Regions from separate parts of the Homo sapiens genome. Here region 1 is linked to region 2. Evidence: fine-mapped expression QTL. A gene starts in region 2. The other region holds a variant in brackets. All regions are shown on one strand. Distances are from middle to middle. Region 1 has its middle 73 kb from the start of LINC00609. Region 2 holds the start of RALGAPA1 (Ral GTPase activating protein catalytic subunit alpha 1).

Region 1 (5,385 bases), 190 kb before region 2:
CCTCAGGAAACAAGGATGGTCATATCTTTAAGTGCTTTTTTTTTAAGATTGTTCCGAACTTTCTTACGTGTTCATCAAAAGATGACAGCTTAGTATCTGTTATTAACATAAGAAAACTGATTTGTAGATAGTTTCCTCAGATCCAATCAAAGGAAGCCTCCCTTTCTGTTAATTGGATAATTAATGGCATTTTTAAAACCAGCACTGATCCAAGTACCTTTTATGTTCATTGGCAGATTGATTATCCATGAAGAAGTTCTCTGTTATCTTTATTATCCATTTGGATGGGAAGGAAGGCCTTGGGGAAGGGACAAAAGGATTAGCTTTGTTTACTCCCCACTCTACCCTTTCAACATTCAGCCTCCTTTGTGAGTTGGCTGTGATTTGAGTCTTAGAAAGGATGAATCTTGACAAAAATGTTTAATAGAATTAAAATCTATTTCAGGCATCAAAAGTAGAGTTTTATGTCTGTGCATTCACGGTTTCTTGGGGGAAGGGGCATAAAACTCTTGCCTATATTTATCTGCCAAGCCTTTTTCTATATCCCTGTCTCCCTCCCCGCCACGCACCTCCATCTCTCTCATATTTCTATGACTAAAACACAAAACCATGGGCTGGTTACTGCAACAGTATCATTTATTTGTGTTCTTCAAGCAGCCTGCAACACAGCCAGAAGATAATGGACACCTCATTTATTCAAGCTCTGAATGATCATATTTAATTCCCTGTGACAGCTGTCTTCCCCACATTAGCATTGCAAATATGTTCGGTTTTGTAATGGCCTTCTATTGAACATGATTCAATTATGTGTGGTCCGTATCGAGGCAGGATGCGGCCTTAGTATCTATAGCAATATTTCTGCAAGCTGCTGCTCTTTACACTGCTCACATTTAAGCTGGCTGTTTACCACAATGCTTTCCTTGAACTATGTTGAACTCCATACACTTTCAAATAAAATAAAGAGGAATGAATGTAATTTGAAAAAGCAGTTACTGGGTGTATAGATATTATATACCTCCTCCCCTTTACATATATAATCAACCTGGAAGCACTTGGAAAAAATTGCCAATTGTCCCATTTTACAACCCAGATAATAAAATCATTATGGCCAATTAAATGATTAGACAATGCTAGACACACTGGGGTTCAATGCCTGGTTTTACATATCACTAACAACACACTATCAGGCATTAAGGCCATCAGTCTGAACTCAGAGTCATTTTCTTGTAATAGAGGTGAGAAACCTGCACCTGGAAGAAAAGCAGCTTCTTCATGGACTGAAGGAAGATTCTAAAGTAACAAGATCTTAGCAAGGGATGAAATGCAGCTCTCTGTCCTCAAAAACGTACACCTCACCAATTGGCTCCTGCCTTCCGAAGTTCATCTGCAGATGCAGCCACCACCTGGATTTCCATGGGGTCCTCCAGCCCTGCCAGCTGTGGACCCCGCATGTTATGGAAAGAGGTCGCTGGGTAGGACAGAGGGGCTACTCACCCAGACTCCATAAGACATTATCAGAGACCCTATGTCACAGTGACTCTGAAGCCAGCTGAGCTGCCTGCCTAATGTGACCGTGGTCTCCAAAGGGACAAAAGCTCTCAGAGTTTTTACCTCTGATGTTAGGAAAGAGCAGCCATTCCTCGGGCCTCGAGTTTCCAGGCGGAACAACTTACCTAGATAGGACTCCTGGTTTCCTCATTGCAAGGCGCGAGTGACCGGCTGGTAGGGCTGGAAGCAGGAACTTGGCAGCCTTGACTCAGCTCTTTTCCCCTTTGGCTCTCTCTGCCTGTCGAAAGGGCGCATTCTGGTCTGGTGCCTCGGCCATGTAGAGAGCTTAGTGCGGCAGAGCTGCCAAAGAGGCCAGATATTTGGGAGGTTACATTCAATTCCGGGAAGAGTTAATAACTGTACTTGACTCTAAGTCATGTTCTCCAATACAACCTTTCTCAGTTAAAAAAAATAATAATAATAAGTTGTTATCATCCATCTATCTGATTCCTGGGTCGGTCTGTCAGTTGGTTGGGAGATGAGGGAAAAGAGAGTTACCTATTGGGCCCAGCCCTTACACCTGCCAGCTCAATCCTTTCCCTGCTGTTTGACATTAGCGTAACGCGGGGCAGTGCTCATCAGACTTTAATTGCGCATGCACATCACCTGGCAATCTTGTTAAACTGCAGATTCTGATTCAGTATGTCTGGGATGGGGCCTGCGATGCTACATTTCTAACAGATGCCTAGGTAATGCCGATGCTGCTGGTCCACGGACCATGCTTTGATAGCAAGAATTTAAAATGTGGTCTCCAAAACCGAGAGAATTCACAGCAGACCCGGCTGCAATAAGAAGTGGGGGCAAGGTATTCTGTATCCTCTTCCTTCCCTTAAGGTGGGGATCTGCACATTTTATTGTGGATTATTATCATCTGGAAAGTTCGCAAACTCAGATTACTGAGACTCACTCCCAAGAATTTTTGCTCAGCAGGACTGGGGTCTAGGGATCTGCATTTTTAAGAAGGCTTTTCACGTGTAATATATCTTCTAACAGGTTATTCTCATGCAGATGGTCCTAGAACCACACTCTGACACAGGCTAAGGAGTCAGAAGATTCTTGCCTAGAACTACTCAATGATGCCACCTTGCCCTGTATGGCTTGTTACATGTTGCAAATTTGCCAACCATATATCTGATAAGGGGTTAATATCCAAAGTAATTATACATAATGAATTCAAATAACTCAGTAGCAAGGAAAAAAACACCTTGATCAAAAAATGGGCAAAGGATCTGATCAGATACTTCTCAAAAGAAGACATACAAATGACCAACAGGTCTATGAAAAAATTATCAACATCACTAATCATCAGGGAAATGCAAATCTAAACCACAATGAGATATCAGCTCACACCTGTTAGAATAGCTATTATTCAAAAGATGAAAGATAACAATTGTTAGCAAGGATATGGAGAAAAGGGGGCCCTTGTTCACTGTTGGCGGGAATGAAAATCAGTACAGCCATTATAGAAAACAGTTTGGAGGGTCCTCAAAAAGTTAAAAATAGAACCACCATATGATCCAGCAATCCCACTTCTGGGTATTTATCCAAAGGAAATGAGATCAGTTATGTCAAAGAGATATCTGCACTCCCAGG[T/C]TCACTGCAGCATTATTCACAATAGCCAGGATATGGAATCAATCAATCTAGTCCATCAAAGGATGAATGTATAAAGAAAATGTGGCATTTATGTACATAGGAATACGGTTCAGCCTGAAAAGGAAAAAAAATCTTGCCATTTGCAACATCATAATGAATCTGGAGGACACGATGATAAGTGAAATGAGCTGGACATAGCAAGACAAATACTGCGTGATCTCACTTATATGTGGAATCTAAAAATGTCAATGTCATAGAAGCAGAGAGTAGAATGGTGGTTGCAAAGGGCCGGGATGGTGGGGGTGGGGAAGAGATGTTGGTTAAAGGGTACAAAGTTTTAGTTAAGTCGGATGAATAAGTTTTGGAGATCTCTTGTACAGTATGGTGACTGCAGTTAATAATAATACAAACTTTAAAATTAAGAATGTAGATCTTAAATGTTCTTACCACAAAAATGTAAGTATGTGTTAATTAACTTGATTTAATCATTTCACAACATATATATATACGAAAACATCACATTGTATACAATAAATATATATAATTTCATGTCATTTATACCTTAATAGAGCTGGGGGGAATCTTATTTAAAAAAGAAAATTCCCTATTATATTTAAATCTGCAAACTAGATGTTACTGAAAGACTCCTCATAATACTTTGCCCAAACTGTTGTTTATACTTTCCAATGGCATCAGACAAAACTCTAGCCACAAGATTGCCCTTTCTTTCCTATGAGCTAGGGAAGCTTATTAGAGGGGCAAGGACACTGATATCTTGAAAAAAGGTTGCATTTTAACACACAAAGAATTACAGAGACAGAAGCAACATACAGCAAAAAGTAAGTGAGAATGTGAGCCTCTTTAACCACAGAGCATGAGTAAATAAGTAAATAGTATATAAACATTAAAATTTTACCATCTGGCTGTTCATAGCTCACTACATGCCATATTCACTAAGGGAATTTCTCATCCTAAAACAGCATGTCTATCAGAATAGATGAAATCGCTCTCTCTGGTAACTTGTGGACTTGGGGGATCCTTTGAAGGATGACTCCCTATTCTATCCTGACTCCTATTTCCTGTATTTATTTTCTACAGCCATTTTCTTAGGCATATAAAATAAATCATTCTACTTGGTTCCTCCAGACATCTACTGATAAGTCTACTCTAACTTGTTCAGTTTCTCACAGCTACACTACAATTCCTAGCAGAATCTTTAACTTTTCCAAATCTTCCTTTCTTTTTTCTCTTCTTGTGACTCTCTGGTTGTACTCTAGGTATTCTAATCACACTCTCTCTCGTTAGCTCCAACGATATCCCATGTCTCAAACCATCCTGTATTTTGTGTGTGTGTGTGTGTGTGTGTGTGTGTGTGTGTGTGTGTGTGTGTGTGACAGAGTCTCGCTCTGTCACCCAGGCTGGTGCAATCTCAGCTCACAGCAACCTCTGCCTCCCAGGTTCAAGCGATTCTTCTGCCTCACCCTCCTGAGTAGCTGGAACTGCAGGCAAACGCCACCACACCCAACTAATTTTTGTATTTTTTGTAGAGATGGGGTTTCACCATGTTGGCCAGGCTGGTCTCGAACTCCTGACCTGGAGTGATCTGCCCGCCTCAGCCTCCCAAAGTGCTGGGATTACTGGAGTGAGACACCACACCTGACCCATTTTGTTCTTTCATCTCAGAGTTTCTCGCATCCCAGGATGGCATCATCCCAATGCCTGAAGTAATACATAAACAGTCTCTCCTTTCTCAAAAGGAAAAACACTTTTTTATTTTATTTTATTTATTTATTTTTTTGAGACTGAGTCTCACTCTATCGCTGGAGTGCAGTGGGATGATCTCAGCTCACTGAAACCTCTACCTCCCGGGTTCAAGCAATTCTCCTGCCTTAGACTCCTGTGTAGCTGGGATTACAGGTGCGTACCACCACACCCAGCTAATTTTTGTATTTTTAGTAGAGACAGAGTTTCATCAGGTTGGCCAGGCTGGTCTCAAACTCCTGGCCTCAGGTGATCCACCTGCCTCGGCTTCCCAAAGTGCTGGGATTACAGGCATGAGCCACCACGCCCAGCCAGGAAAAACACTTCTTGAAAGGAAAATAAACATAGTCCCAAGGTGAACTCCTACAGGATAAATCCAAAGTGTTTCTGCCATGTGTTTTACCATAGTGCCTTAGTCCAATTTGTGCTGCTATAACAAAATATCTGAGGCTGGGTAATTTATAAACAGCATAAATTTATTCC
Region 2 (5,385 bases):
GCAAAATAGTGAGACCTTGTCTCTACTAAATTTTTTTTTTTTTTTTTTTTTTTTTTTTTTGTGAGATGGAGTTTCGCTCTTGTTGCCCAGGCTGGAGTGCAATGGCACGATCTCAGTTCACCGCAACCTCCGCCTCCCAGGTTCAAGTGATTCTCCTGCCTCAGACTCCCGAGTAGCTGGGGTTATGGGCACGCGCCACCACTCCTGGCTAATTTTGTATTTTTAATAGAGAAGGGGTTTCTCCATATTGGTCAGGCTGGTCTTGAAATCCTGGCCTCAGGTAATCCACCTGCCTCGGCCTCCCAAAGTGCTGGGATTACAGGAGTGAGCCACCACGCCTGGCCATCTACTAAATTTTTTTTTAATTAGCTGGGCTTTTTGGCACCTGCCTGTGTTACCAACTGCATGGGAGGCTGAGGTGAGAGGATTGCTTGAGTCCAGGAAGTTAAGGCTAAAGTGAGCTGTGACTGCACCACTGCATTCCAGCCTGGATGACAGAGCAAGACCCAGTCACTAAAAGAAAAAAAATCTAGTTCTCACAAGCAATATATATATATATATATATATATATATATTTTTTTTTTTTTTTTTTTTTTTTTTTTTTTTTGAGACAGAGTCTCACTCTGTCAACCAGGCTGGAGTTCAGTGGTGCAATCTTGGCTTACTGCAACCTCCGCCTCCTGGGTTTAAGCAATTCTCCTGCCTCAGTCTCCTGAGTGGCTGGGATTACAGGCGTGCCCCACCACGCCTGGCTAATTTTTTTGTATTTTTAGTAGAGACGGGGTTTCACCATGTTGGTCAGGCTGGTCTTGAACTCTCCTAACCTTGTGATCCGCCTGCCTCGGCCTCCCAAAGTGCTGGGATTACAGGCATGAGCCACCGTGCCTGGCCCTCACAAGCAATATTTCAAAGGTATATTTCTGGGTTTTATTTCCATGATAATTATGTCTGCTGTGGGGAAGACTTATCTTTCAAAGAATTTTAATATTTAAATCAATGGGAAGAGAAAAACCAGGCAGTGGGATGGGTGTGCCATATGTAAATTACATTATACTAGTTTGTTTTGCAATGGTGTTTTCATTTTTTCTCAGGTATACCAGCCATATAATTATTTTTAACGATATGTTACATTTTTATTCTCTAAAATTATGTCACTCATTTGCCAAACATTTACTGAGTACTTGCGCAAGAGAAAGGAAGGGACAGTGACATTCGTTCTTCTATTCGACACAGATTTATTGAGCCTATCTTGCAAAGAGCACTTTGCAAGAAGACTGGGATACAACTTTAGACAATCTATACAGTCTCTGTCCTCAGGGAGTTTACAGTCTCATGAAAGAGAGAATCTGTAAACAGTTACACAAATTACTGTATTTAAATTCTATGAAGGAAAGGAATGTTATGAGATGTGTCATTATAGATGTAACTTTCAATACTTTTCTCACCTAATTATCACAATCACTGATGTAGTTTACAAATGAGGAAAATCAGGCTGAGACTGAACTACATGCCAAGGGCCCGAGAGCAAGTAAGTCCTTGCAAGTGAAAAACAGAATGTCTAATTTAGGTCTATGTAATTCTAAAGATCATGCTTGAAAACATTGTATTATTGCCTAAATTTCACGAAACTGTGAGGGACAGACCTTATTTTGATTTTATTAATAAGAAAACTGATGCTGAGAGGAACTAGAACTAAAATCTCTTGAACAATCCCCTTATTTTTCTATTATGTTATAAGCTTCCTCAAAACATGTATGGCTTGTAAGTTTGATGATACAAACAAACCCTACATGTAGAAACTGAATAAATTTTTTGTACTTTAAAAAATATAGGATTGTTGTTGAAACAAACTACCATTAAGCAAAGCACTATATTTTAACATAATTTTGGCAAATGTCTTACATCTCTCTTCTTTGCTGATTTTGTTATTTTTCTATGTTAATCACATATTTCATTGGACAAGTCTATTGCTATGGGTGAGAACATAGAAGGAAACAGTTCAAACAAGCAAACTCACTCTTTATCAAATTATTTTGTGGAGGAAATGTTCCTGGCCAGGCGCAGTGGCCTCACGCCTGTAATCCCAGCAGTTTGGTAGGCTGAGGCGGGCGGATCACTTGAGTCTAGGAGTTTTAGACCAGTTTGGGCAAAATGGCGAAACCCCGTCTCTACAAAAAACACAAAAATTAGCTGGATGTGGTGGCGCGCACCTGTGGTCCCAGCTACTCGGTAGGCTGAGGTGGGAGCATCACCTGAGCCTGGGAGTTCGAGGCTTCAGTGAGCTGAGATCACACCACTGCACTTCTGCCTGGGACACAGAGACCCTGTCTGGAAAGAAAAGGAAAAAGGAAAAAAAAAAAAAGGGTTCCAATAAAAATTTCAATTTATGTCATTCAGAATTTCACGGATTTTTTTCAGCTATTGCAGATTCTTCAGATGACTCCATCAATGTAATAAGAACCTTGAATTCTTCTTTGCAGAGGAAAAACTGACAATATATTCATCTTTATGTGGGGTGCAGATGGGGAAAAGATTTTTAAAAGCACAATAGAAAAGGAAAGCAAGATTACTTTTATTTAAAAAACCTAGATACCTCTGCTTAAGCCTTTCTGTTGTCAAGTTGTTTGCAGCAAAAAACAGGGATATTGCAAATAGAAAAAATATGAAAGAAATCACATACATAGTGCAGGAAATATTATTAGTAATAGATTTAGGACAGAATAAATTGCCCAACTGTAACTTCGTTTATCTTTCTGCTAGAGGATCTGGTGGCCACAACAACTTATGCACATTTTCAAAGATAAATCATGGACATATTTAATAAAGATTACTTCTCTTTGCTTATTACTATCATTTGGCTTACAATGGAGCACGCAGTAACTACCTTCCTTGCCTTTCTTGAGATTCTCCTTTGGCTGCTTACACAGGAAACCAAGGCGGGGAGTGCCACGGGTGATCTCATGCTGGCATGACGTCAAGAACTCTTGACGTCAGAAGGCGGTTGCCACGGACACCGTTCGCCACCGACGGCAGAGTCGTGAAACCCCATCACTACCACACTCGTCTCCGTTTCGGCCTCTGCAGGGTGTAAGCTGCTAAAGAAGCTTCAACCTTAAGGGGGCCTCAGGGAGAGAGTTGTGCTCCTGCCGCCGAGAGCTCCACCTTCGTGGCTCTGGGTCCGGGGCCCCGGCCTGTGGCGGCGAGCGGCGGCCGCTGGAGACGAGCGGCGGCGGCAGGCGGCCAGCCCGGGTCTGCCTCGCTCCGTGCAGGGCCGGGAGAGGGATCCGCCATATTGGAGCTGGGGCCGAAGGTGCCTTGGAGCCGCGGCGCGAGGCGGGTGGAGGTGGCGGCCCTGGCCTGGATCGGGAAGGAGTCGGCTCTGCCCTGGCCCGCAAGGCTGGGGAGCTAATGAGCCTCTCTGGCTAGTCTCCTCCCCGTCCACTCCCTCCACTTTCTGCCGCCGGGACCCGGCTGGGAGCCGGCTGTGGCAGTGGCAGTGGCAGTGGCAGCGACAGGATGTTCTCCAAGAAGCCGCACGGGGACGTGAAGAAGTCCACCCAGAAGGTGCTAGACACCAAGAAGGACGCACTGACTCGCCTCAAGCACCTGCGCATCGTCATCGGTGAGGAGCGAGGGGTGGCAGCGCCGAGGCCTGGGTTGCCCGGCCTTCCCTCTCCTGGGAGCCCCTGCGGACTCTCTCTCGGGACCTGGCGCGGTGCAGGAGAGGGCAAATCGTAGCCTCTGCGGAGACGCGGGAGGGTGAATAATTCGGAGAAGCGAAAACTTGGCAGTTGGCAGCACTGATTACTGTTAACACAGTAATCTAATTTTGAGTTAATAGTCTGAACTTATTTTTTAAAATTGGTATTACTCTAAAAACTTAGATCTTTAAGACTTTGTGGGGAGACCTGGCGTTGTGGATAATGGTGTTTATAGGATATGTTTGCCAGATGACTACTGCCAACCCCACCCAAGTAAAAAGAAAAATAAAATCCTCTCTCAGACAATATAAACCTTAATCTTTCAAGTTTCTTGGCAGATGAAGACAAGGAGGTAGCAGTTACACCTCTTTGGGAAGTGGGCGGTTCCCAAAAAGCTGTGGGAAGGAGCCCCGCCCTTTTGTTAATGCACCTTGTTCATCACTAGTCATTTAGAGGGAGAACTATTATAGGTAGTTTAACTCATCCTTTGCTTCTCGAGAATTGTATATAATTCTATTTTTAATTAAAAATATTTTTTTTATCGTCTGCCCTTAAGTTCTGTTTTGCTGGTAGACCAAACAGTGCTCTAAGTTTTGAATATAATGTTAATCGACTCTTTTGAATACTTAGTCATTTGGTAGGCTGATAAAGGCTGTAATAATACTTATGGAACATCTGGTCCAGTAGTTGGATTTTTTAGATGAAGACATTTGAGATGAAAAGGAAAATTATTTCGCCTGTGTTGATACTTAGAGTTAATGGTGGAACTGGCTGAAGAAGATGCATTCATCCAGATGCCTGAATCCTAGTTCAGAGTTTATCTCGAGCTGTCCTCCTGATGCGTATTTGTTTTGGAAAGTGATGTTTATTTAGTGAAAAAAGTAAGTCCCTTATTTGAGGTACATGTTTCTCTAGTCTATTGTTTACTCATACCACCAGGATACCACCAATATTACCCAACATTTCTATGATGCTTTACTGTTTACAGTGATTTCACGTAAATTATGATAATCCTTGCAATAACTCTATAGGTAGATGATATTATTCTCCATTTTTTACCAACAAAAAAGCTGAAGTTTGGGAACATCGAGTAGTCAGCCAGCTACCAGGAGGCTGAGTCAGAATTGGAACCCAGATTTTGTGTCTCTAGTTTGTTTTTTTACTCTTTCTACATTTATGACAGCTAATCTTTGTCACAAGTAAATTGTATTTATTCCAGTGGAGTAGTAAGAAAGCAGTTAATCCAGTTTAGCGCTATAAAAAGCTCAGTTTTCAAGAAAATGTAAAGCTTCTAAATATAGTGGAGATTGTGATCTTTTTGTTTTCATTCTTCTTGAGAGTTAAGCCATTGAAATAAAGATTTAGCCGAGAATAGGACACAGTAAGTTAATGTGTGAATGCAGGCGAGGGATTCACAGGTAATGGCAGTTTGAAATTGAACACTTAATGGAGCTTGACACCTACTTGGGATAAGCTGTAGGTTAGGTAATGACACAGCTATAAAGTTGAGTTCCAATAAAGTATCGAGATTTCCTAAATTAAAGGCCATACTTTATTTATAGACTGGTTAAGGAATTATTTATATATACTTTTTTGGCATAGAGTTTTTTTCCATCTGGCAGACATGGAAAATTAAAAGGTAAATTAAGAGAGAGGTCACACATATAAGGCATTTTGTAGGACT

What was found. PIP is the estimated chance that this variant, and not a neighbour inherited with it, causes the effect.
Region 1: its variant is fine-mapped to the expression of RALGAPA1 in cerebellar hemisphere (GTEx, PIP 0.99).

The regions. Positions count from the first base shown.
Region 1 is chr14:35,994,873-36,000,257 of GRCh38, reverse strand. No RefSeq gene overlaps it. Among named protein-coding and RNA genes, the nearest start is that of LINC00609, 73 kb to the left of the region's middle. The variant T/C (reference allele first, on the strand shown) is at 3,142.
Region 2 is chr14:35,806,967-35,812,351 of GRCh38, reverse strand. It overlaps RALGAPA1 (Ral GTPase activating protein catalytic subunit alpha 1), which reads left to right and starts at 3,057. Exons shown (of 42, transcript NM_001346249.2): 1 at 3,057-3,622. The coding sequence starts at 3,517. RefSeq lists enhancers at 2,911-3,010, 2,847-3,407 and a silencer at 3,091-3,330.